Linked DNA regions of Homo sapiens. The protein of the gene in region 3 interacts with the protein of the main gene of each other region in a biochemical or structural test. Each region holds a gene or a part of one and is shown on either strand. Other genes may lie near its edges.

Region 1 (3,500 bases), on a different chromosome or scaffold from region 3:
ACAAAGCCTTGCCTAGCACCAGCACAATGGTCTCTGGACGTACACATTTACATGGGTTGTGGGGGAAGGGAGAGAACAGAGAAGGCTGGGTGAAATCATAACAAATTATAAAATCGTAAATAACTTCAAGTGCCATTTTCAGTTGTTATTCCAACATCTGTTTATTAAAAAATATAACATACTTCAAAAAATTTATTTTTATAAAAAACACATTTCTTGACTACTCTATACTGAAAAATAAACAAAGCTGAATATCAAATATATGCCCCAAATATAAGGCAAAGATCTCCCCCCAAACCCCAGATGGTACATCTTATAATTAAATCTTTACAAAGCTCTGCATTATAGAGCTCTGTATTAATTATCTTGACAAATAAATGTTTGCGTAAGACACATACACCCGAAAACTTCAATCAATGTCATTTTTAAAGGTTTATAAGGTCTAATGAAGGAACCAGTGAGACAGAAGATGACGTCATGATGTGGAAAAAATGTCATCAGATTAAAAAAAAGTGGTTCTAGTGATGATGAATGACAGATACTAACATCAAAGTTGCATATGAAAAGTGTAATGAAACTTTCATGAAGTAGGAAGGGGGAAAATACTATTTCTAATACTTTATATGATATGCAATTATAGGTATGTATAATTATATGTATGTATAATTAAACTAAAATTGAATATTAGAAATAAAACATTTGGCTATTTCATGACTTCCCTAAAAGCTCATATATTCAAGCTGTCTACGAAATATTTTGAATCTTCTCATGGGCAAAATGGAGAACTGTTTATATACACAGTATATGTAATTTAAGTTTTATCTTTGAAAGAAACTAAGTTATTTGTGACTAACACACCTCTTGAACTGCTACTAACAGCGTTCCTTTCTTTCCTATTTGTCTGTATGATTGGTTCAAAACAATCACTGTACTAGTTTCTTCCAGTAAAGAGTTCCAAAAATAATTTTCATAGAGTAAATTTTAAGAAACTGTTTAACACATATGCAGCTGCTACTTTCAAATTATGTTAATTACTTGAAACAGTTACTTTCAACTGTCATATGCAGGTGTTAAAAATAGTTTCAGTTAAGTTCTGAGTTATGCAAATTATTCCATAAAAATTAGACTGCATTTCTGGAGAAGTGCCATCTGGCAGGAACTGATAAGAAAAGAGCTTCAGGAACTAAAATGAACAATTACTTTGAAATGTCCCTTCTTACTTACCATAGTCAATGAAGAAGATATAGACATGGATTAATAATGAAATCCAGAGGTATTTGTTCATGAGTATACAAATACCTTAAGAAGGCTTTAAATATCTGAGCCATGCTACTAAGACATCAAGAAACTATGATACTCTCAGTAGCGCTGTCCAATAGAACTTTCTGCAATCATGGAAATGTTCCATATCTCCTCTGTTCAAAATGGTACATACTAGCCACAGTAGCTAATAAGCACTTGAAATGTGGCTACTGGGGCTAAAAAAGTCAATTTCGTTTTTGTTTTTTAAGTTCATGTAGATGTGACTAGTAGTTAGCATTTTGGACAGTACAGCTCCACAATATCTATGATTCACATTAGGAGCTTACTAAACATGGAAGGGCTACTGGAATCTGGGCCTAACAATTTTATCTGAAGACAGTTCTAAATCAAGGGTTTAAAAATAAAAGGTCTTCATCCTATTCCTTATCAATATAGCTGGAGAAACAATCTACTTTATAAAAGAAATCAGCATAAAAAGAACTTAAGTACCATAGCATATGGCCTTTAATTTGGTGCTGTTTTCTAATCCTAGCAGACAACATGAGTAACGACAGATACACAGAACACAGACACGAAACAGTAGGAAATCAAGTGCCTAGTCCATGAATTAACTATTTGTAGCACACATAAAAATAGTGTTTTATGGCTTTTGAGTAGGCAAAGATAAACTAGTCACCAGACTGGCTGTCACACTTTCACTCCAGGTTTCTCAAAGGGGATTAAAAAAAAAAAAAAGAAATTTTAAATGCGGAAAAATGTAAACATATACACAACAGACAGAAAAGATTCTGACATACCCGTAACTCAATCATTATTAATAAACGATCAAACTTGTTTCATCTATATCCCTCTTCACTTTCCTTCACCTGGTATTATTTTGAAGTAAAATCCCACATAGGATTTCATATATGAGAATTAAAAAAAAAAAAAAAACTCCCAGAAAAAAGGGAAATGAAAGTACTTGATTAATTTATCCGAGGGAAGAGGTGTTCCAGGAAAAAGAAGTGATGTGCTGGGATTACAAAACTAGAGACTATCAGTGTGCATGAAGCATAAGGAGTAAGCAGAGAAAGAGGTCCCCGAGAAAAGATGGTGGCGATGGGAGAAACTCTCAGGGCACAGTTGAGCAGCATTACTCTAGTTTAAAGTAATAGGGAGCCAATACAGGTTTCAGAAGGGAGAGGGTAAAGAAAACGACTTTTGTGATAGCATGGAACCCGACTTCAGAAGCACTGAGGGTAAAACTAGGAAGGAGGATTTTGCAGTGCTCCAGCAGTTTACTTATTTGTTCAAATAAAACAAACAAATATCCTTTCCACATGCTAAAAAGGGAATGCTCTACCCATTTCAAGAGAGGCTTTGCTGGTGAATATTTAAATATATTTTACTTTTTTTTCCAATACTGAATTTTGCTTTAGGACTTACACACAGAACTGTTAGTTGTAATGTGACTAATCCTTTTTGGCTCACTTGTGAAATAATTTGCTAAGAATATCAGTAAGATAAAACAAATATTACATTTAAAAATTAGTTTAAATTTTAATTTACATTACCACTAACATAATTTTAAGACAAGCCATTAACATATCAAATGTAAAAAATCTAAGCTAAAATACTGACTGAAGGTTTTTTTTTTTTTTTTTTCAAGAAATGCTTAAGGATTTTAGGCTTTGTGGAAAGAGGGTTGGTGGGAGAATGATGGGGTAAGAGTTGAGGTAAGAAGAATGGAGGAAGGGCAAACATGTAAGAAAATACTTAATTTTAGAAAAATTTTTCAAAAAAAAAAATGACAAGACATTTTTTAACACTACAAAATCCCAGCTTACTTTTTTGGTTTTCTGGAAGTAGAGTTCAGGAAAAGCATGAAGCCAGTAAGCCAGCTGTGATATGTAGAAAAACTTCATTTGAAATCTGTACAACACAAGAAAATGAAGAGTACCTTTTAAAGCATAATTTTTTTAAAAAAAAGTAAACAAATACTGGAAATCAGGATATACTAAGTAACTACCTTTGTGTCATCATTCCATACAATATCTGTGCACCTTTAAACAACTCTTCAACAACCTCTTTCCCCATCTCCCTGTGACAGTCCCACCATTGGACAAGACCCCTGGATTAAACAGCAGGCAAAGATACTATCTGCAGAAAGCTATTGACATGTAAGCCAGTTGGGAGGAGTCAGAGCCCCTATTAGTTCATTAATACTGACTAGTATGTCATGTTAGCTACTGAAAACA
Region 2 (3,500 bases), on a different chromosome or scaffold from region 3:
GAATTAACCTTTCCAGAGCTCTGCGTGAGGCAGTGTGTTGGCCACTTGACAAATCTTCTCATTGAGTCCTCTCTCAGAATCCTAAATTCTGGGAGGTAGAATGTACGATCTCCATTTTACAAGTGAAATACATGGCTTAGGAGAGGTTAAGGAACGTATCAACTGTAACTGGTAACCAGTGGGCTAGAATTTGAACTCTGATCTTACCCTGAAGTTTGTGTTCTTTCTGCCTCTCCTCCTGGGTGCTTACCACTCAGTGGTAGGCACTCGAAGCATTTTAGCTGCATAAATAAGATAGGCACTTAATTAGCTGGCCTAGGATATCGTAAAGGTCTTTCCCAGCTCTAGCAGTGTGTGACTGACTCCACTCTGGGGAAATAGAGCTTCTTCACTTAAGCCTCACAGGAGGAGGAACATGTCAGGGAAGGGAAGAAGGGAAGGAGGGGCGGTTGTAAGGACACCTATGCTTCCATCATTAGCCCATCTTAACAGTACATAGGAAATAGCCTGAACTAGATACACAAATGGAATGTACCAATCAACAAAGAGATTACATCAAAAAGAAACTGGGAATAACAATTTTTACCATTTATTGAATAATAATTATATGCTAGGTTCTGTGCTAAGAATGTTATATGTACTACCTTATTGAATTCTTACAACTATTATTGTTCCATATTACAAAGGAGGAAACCAAAGTCTGGAGTGGTCAAGTAACTTGCCCAAGCCCATATAGCTGGTAAATGCTGGTGTTATAATACCAACCCAAGCCTACTGGCTCTTGACCACTTTGTTTCTACTGTGTCCATTATCATGAAACCCAGTTTTCTTCCAGCTCTCCTCTAGAGTAGCCCAGACAAAAAAAGAATGGTTCCTGAGATAGAGTACAGTGAGAATGGGGCTATGAGGACCCATTGTTCTGAAATAGTCATGAGCAAATCTTCACCCTGGTAAAGAGAATCTGCAGAAGCTGCTGTTCACACTTAAGGCACAGTGTTAAATGGGAGGTTCACAGTATAGACTCTGAACAAACACTGAACGTCTTTGAGCTTCAATCTTCTCACCCATACAATGGGGTTAAGAATATCTGACATAGTTGGTATAAAGATGATGCAAGACAACATATGTAAAAATGCTTCCTTATAAATTGAAAAACTTATATAAATGAAAGGTATCATTATTTCAGGAACTCTTTGTTTTGAGAGCCTTAGCTCTCTGTTTTGTTTTTTTCAGACAGAGTCTCGCTCTGTTGCCCAGGCTGGAGTGCAGTGGCATGATCTCAGCTCACTGCAACCTCTGCTCCCAGGTTCAAGCTATTCTCATGCCTCAGCCTCCTGAGTAGCTGGGATTACAGGTGTGTGCCATCATGCCTGGCTAATTTTTGAATTTTTAGTACAGATGCAGTTTCACCATGTTGGCCAGGCTGGTCTCGAATTCCTGACCTCAACTGATCCACTCACCTCGGCCTCCCAAAGTGCTGGGATTACAGGCGTGAGCCACCGCACCTGGCCCTTAGCTCTCTTTAATGAATGCAAACTTAACATGGGATTTAAAAGCATATTTTCCAACGTACTTTCAATAAATAAAACTACTGCTATTGCCATTTAGCCCATTCTCTTTCCTCCAAGTAAAAAAGGAGTCATGCTTTCTCTTGTGGGATTAGGTCATCAAAAAACTGACACAAAGAGATGATGAAGCCCCAAGTACATACCTATGCTGGGTAGAAGTTCTGGATGGGATCCCACCTTCTCCTCCACTAGGCCACCCGCAAGTGACTCAGATGCTATGCCACCATGATTGCTTTTTGTGGTCGGTACGGCGGAGATGAGCTCGGAGGGTACCAGAGTGGTTACTATCGAGCGTACACTGGTGGGGAGAGCACCGCCAGGTAAGCTGGGTCCTGCTGAGGCAGTGCCCGGGCCCACAGGGCTAGAGGTCATTTTTAGCAGAGTGGGTGCTGGGGGCGTTGGGGTTTTACTGTCCAGCTCTGTGGATAACTGCTCTGTTCCCATGAGCCCCGGAGCTGTGGTGTCTAGCCCTTGGCCTTCAGTCTCTCCATCTGCACCATATTGTTCTTCCCCTTTCTCAAGAGAGCCTGTAACTTTCTTACATGCCTTGGTCAACAAAATTTGGCCAATTTTGTCCACTTTTCCTTTGCCCTTACTAGACGAGACTGGGCTTCGCCGGTTGCCAGAGGACCCTGGACTATTGGTCAAAAGGGGAGAAACCATTGTGGTTGACTGTGAAGAGGGAAGAGTGTTCTGATCTGCTGAGGTGTTCACCTGAGGGCTAGCCTCATCTGGATTCAATTCTTTCACTTGCTGCACAGGGGGATGAGAAGGGACAACTGGAGAAGACGTACAAGGAGGGGAAGGAAGCTGAACAGGGGTGGCTCGTGAGCTAAGGACCAAAGGTCGACCTGTCTGGATGTTTGGAGCAGGACTACTGGAGAGGGCATTAGGCGGTACAGGAGCAGAAGAAAATTTTATGTTCTGAGGTATGTGTAAAGGGCCAACAACTGCAACAGAGGGAGGCATCAGGCCAGAGTTGGTTGTCAGTGGGGCTGCAGGAATTGTGCTTGGCTGTGATCCTTTCATAACCTGAATTATTGAGGATGAATTGATAAAGACAGGTGTAATGAACTGAGGCCGGGCATTAGACTGAGCAGCTGACTGTCCCTCAGAAACCATAACCTTGCTACCCGCATTGGGCATTGTGACAACTGTTGACATCAATGCAGACTGCAAGTGAGTTGGCAAAGCTGCTGATGTGTTAGCTGAAGTTGTGATGGGATTGGAAGTGACAAATACAGTTATTTGATTTGGGGGCAAGGGAGTGGAAATGGAGGAAGAGCTAACAGGTCTTGACATTACTGGAGGGATGCTTGGTGCAACGTTAGAACTGACCTCACTCAATTCGGGATGCACAAGGGATGAACACAGCTCATTACTGTGAGGTAAGTTTAGGGAATTAGAAGGTTCTTTAGAAGAAGACAGATCCTGCAGTGTGGGAATGACAGATGCTTTTTTGAGGTCCTCCCCAGAAACTACTGGAGGTGTTACTTCCAGATCTGTAAGCCCAGGGGGTTTAATTGTCACATTGGGAGCTCCAGAGTTGTCAAGAAGTTGACTTAACGATGTTGGTGCTTCCCTCATAGCAGGAGACACCAAATTTTTGTTCTCTTCGACACTGGGAAGTTTGTTAGGATCCGAAGGCTGCCCATCCTTTTTGGACTGATCTTCAGGGACAACCATTTTAACTTCTTGGGCAGGGACTGCTTTTAGTTCAATGTTTACCTGTTCCTTCCTACTCTGGGAATTCTGGCAATCACTGTCCTGAGGCACATTCAAGCTCTCCTTGTTATCCTCAACAACACCCCCAACTGCAGCCACAGACACAGTAGAATTCTGAGGATTCAGCCCACTGTTGTTAGGAAAGCTCCCAGGTACAGGGGGATTGGCCAGAGGAGTGGGACTGACCAATACATTTCTCGGCAACTC
Region 3 (3,500 bases):
AGTTTTAGTAACCCTTCCTTCCACCGCTATTGCCAAAAATGCTATATAGTACATGCATTAGAATGTGTTAAAGCAGATCGGGCATGGTGGCTCACGCCTGTAATCCCAGCGCTTTGGGAAGCTGAGGTGGGCAGATCGCCTGAGGTCAGGAGTTCAAGACCAGCCTGGCCAACATGGTGAAACCACTTCTCTACTAAAAATAGAAAAATTAGCCTGGCATGGTGGTGGACACCTGTGATCCCAACTACTTGAGAGGCTGAGGCAGCAGGATCACTTGAATCCGGTAGGCGGAGGTTGCAGTGAGCCAAGATTGCACCTCTGCACTCCAGCCTGAGCAACAGAGAGAGACTCCATCTCAGAAAAAAAACAAAAAACAAAACAAAACAAAACAAAAAAAAACAAAAGAGTGAGTTAAAGCATGTGAAAATAAACTTGGCACATTTCTAAGAATTTTATCACCTGTCCAGAAAGCTCCAGATATAATTGGTCACTATAGGTACAAAAAACAGCAGGACAACTTAAGATTATAACCTGAAAATGGAATTTTTAATGGAGAAAAATCTGTGTCGACTTATACACATAGTGGCCACATACCTACGGGATACAGTCCCCTATTAAAGCGCTGGCCTGTAAATGCTGCTGCACCACAGATTAAAAATGAGTCACAGGACCCTGAATCCTTGGACCCAACTCTCTCCTTCTCTGGTTCTTGACCCAGTGAAGGAGCTGATGATGCTATCATCCTCTGCCCTGCAAGTGTGAGATTTTAATTGCAGCACCCAGGACTTTGTTCCCACTCACTAAGCACCTTACTCAAACAAGTCAGAGAAGAAACACAATGTATTTTTTCTCACCTGTCCAGAACAAGATCTGGAGCAAAGATGAGCTTGCCGGGGTGGTCAATTGAGCGCCACATCAGCCCCATCATTAACACCTCCATCCAACAGCTCTCCAAGAGCCGCACTTGGTCGAACAGGCTGAGCTCCACAAAGCCTGGGGAAAGCAAGAGGCGGTGAGACACCCCCACCCCTCCTCCTCAGCTCCCTGTGTGTGTAGAGACAGAATGGCAAGTGTTAAAACACTAAGAAAACACAAACCATTAGGGAGTTGATATTTTATAGATGTGATTAACTGCTCATTAAAGGAAGAAAACTTTGAAGTTAAGCTGCGCAACTTAGTTTCCAGTCTTGGACCCCTTCTAGAGACAAATATACTTCATTTAGAGTTTGTCAAGCACTACGACCTCGGCTCAGAACTGATCTTTGTTAGCTGTGTCCTGATAATTCCTCTGCACTACTGAGAATGTTGATGCTTGGCTGCCAGTCAGAAGACCTGCCTGTCTGACCCAATCCTTGACTGGGATCAGAAGGGGTGGGGGATGGGGTAGGTGGGGGATGGGGTAGGTGGAGGTTGGGGTTGGAGGCTTGCAGAGAGCAGTGCCAGCCCTCACAGAAAACCAAGGCCTCAACTGCAAGGATTTCTCTGATTGATTAAAATTTCCTATCCAGTGTTAAGATCCTTCTTCTGGGTAGAAGCACTGTTTCTGGGTGATTCTATCCTAAACAGCAAATATAGCCAAGCACACCTGTAATCCCAGCACTTTGGGAGGTCAAGGTGGGTGGATTGCCTGCACCCAGGAGTTTGAGACCAGCCTGGCCAACATGGAGAAACCCCATCTCTACAGAAAATTATCTGGTCATGGTGGCAGGTGCCTGTAGTCCCAGATACTCTGGAGGCTGAAGTGGGATGATCGCCTGAGCCCAGGAGGTCGAGGCTGTAGTGAGCTGAGATCACGCCACTGCACTCCAGCCTGGGCAACAGAGCGAGACCCTGTCTCAAAAATAAATAAATAAATAAATAAATAAAGAGCAAATATAATAACGAAGCAGGTCCTGACAACCTAATAACCCATGTTGGTCACAGTACTGTTTGCAAACAGGTAATCTCTGGGGAGGGAAGCACTTCAAAAGCAAAGCAGAGAACACCGGGGCTTCCTTCACAAGCCATGATAAAAAGAGAGGGCCATGTAATATAAATATGATAACAAAAGACACCGCCTTGGAGTGAAATGGACTCTGGTTCGAACCCCAGCTCAGCCTCTTTCTAGCTGTTCACTTAATCTCCCATTAAGTCTTTGTTTTTCTTATAGGAAAATGGGGGTAACAATGCCTATCTCTGAGAATGTCTTATAGGCAGGATCTCTTATCATTCTTGTTTTACAGATGAGGAAACTACAGCAGAGAGAACACACATGGTTCAAGTCTTTGAACAATTATAACGCAAATCTGCCTCAAGGAGAATGTAATGGTGTTATGAATGTAAAGATGGATAAATACTTTCTAAATCCACATGCTTTGCTCAGTTTAGGTTCCTAATGTGTATATACCTTCCCAGTCTCACCCATAGTGATTGACAATAAGCCTACCCAAGAGAGATCACGGTTCTTAATCTTGTAGATATTCAACAAGATCAAGGCTAGATGATATTTTAATATATATTTTTTGGTTTGGACAATGACTATGCCAGCTAAGAGAGGAGAAAAAAAATCACGCCTTCAGATTATGTCTACGTTTCCTGAAAACTTTTCAAAACACCAGGCTTGAATAAGGAATAATGCAGTTTAAGAGTTCAGATTTCTTATGGCACAAAGAAGGTGCACAGCTTTCAGCAATAATTAATTTCACCACTGCTCTCCATGTGTGGTCCTGCAAAATCGTGTTTGGAATACATTTAAAGCAAAAACTAGAGGAAAGTGCATCAGTATTGCCTCCCCTGGGAAAAAGCAGAGAAAATAAAATAATTCTGGCAAAGGTGAAGATGCTAGACAAAACAAAATACAACTAGAAACCAAAAATCCTCAGGAAGCTCAGAAGAAATGGGCCCAGGCCAACAAAAGTCCCCAAATGATACTGTCACCATAGGCCTCAGTTCCCCAGGCTCTTTACCCAAAACTTCTCTTCCCCCAGCTTCTCACCCCTCCTCATCTTTACAGCTTGCCCAGTGCAGTCGCTGCCCTCCAGGCCATGGGAATGCCCCCAGTGGCTCAGAACTTATAAGAGACTTCATTTCTTCAAGGACTGTAAAGAACAGCATGGAGAAGCTGTCACAGGGGGATCGTGGGGTGTTGCCACTCTAGGTTAGAATCCTAGATTCACTCCTCCACAGAAACACCAAGTCAAATGATAATTAGCTGGTAATTTTAGCATCATACAGCACTTCAGATATATATTACAAATGGGCTTGAGAGAAGTGATCACTTTGGAGGATGGAAAACGCAGGTTCCAAGTGACAACTCATGAGTAACTAAGCTCATTTTTAACTTGATGGCATTCCAGGTTTATGGGCCCATTGATGATTCGTGTAACTTCAACCACTGATTTACTCTGTTTGTCCATACATATTCATTTATGTACATAATATTGATTCTCTACTGGAACAATAATTTACAAAATTCTATTTAGCATCTGACAAACCTTTCACTTTCAAACTAGTCATACTGT

What was found. The genes of interacting proteins can lie anywhere in the genome.
Region 1: the proteins of ESR2 (region 3) and TRAM1 form a complex in vitro, tested with the Homo sapiens proteins (one study listed by BioGRID).
Region 2: the proteins of ESR2 (region 3) and NCOA6 form a complex in vitro, tested with the Homo sapiens proteins (one study listed by BioGRID).

The regions. Positions count from the first base shown.
Region 1 is NC_000008.11:70,591,417-70,594,916, forward strand, and holds part of TRAM1 (translocating chain-associated membrane protein 1), read right to left. Parts: intron 3,175-3,500; coding exon 3,090-3,174; intron 1-3,089. UniProt on the Homo sapiens protein: Involved in the translocation of nascent protein chains into or through the endoplasmic reticulum (ER) membrane by facilitating the proper chain positioning at the SEC61 channel.
Region 2 is NC_000020.11:34,738,652-34,742,151, forward strand, and holds part of NCOA6 (nuclear receptor coactivator 6), read right to left. Parts: coding exon 1,712-3,500; intron 282-1,711; coding exon of another isoform or gene 208-281; intron 1-207. UniProt on the Homo sapiens protein: Nuclear receptor coactivator that directly binds nuclear receptors and stimulates the transcriptional activities in a hormone-dependent fashion. Coactivates expression in an agonist- and AF2-dependent manner.
Region 3 is NC_000014.9:64,256,372-64,259,871, forward strand, and holds part of ESR2 (estrogen receptor beta), read right to left. Parts: intron 1,045-3,500; exon of another isoform or gene 994-1,044; coding exon 855-993; intron 1-854.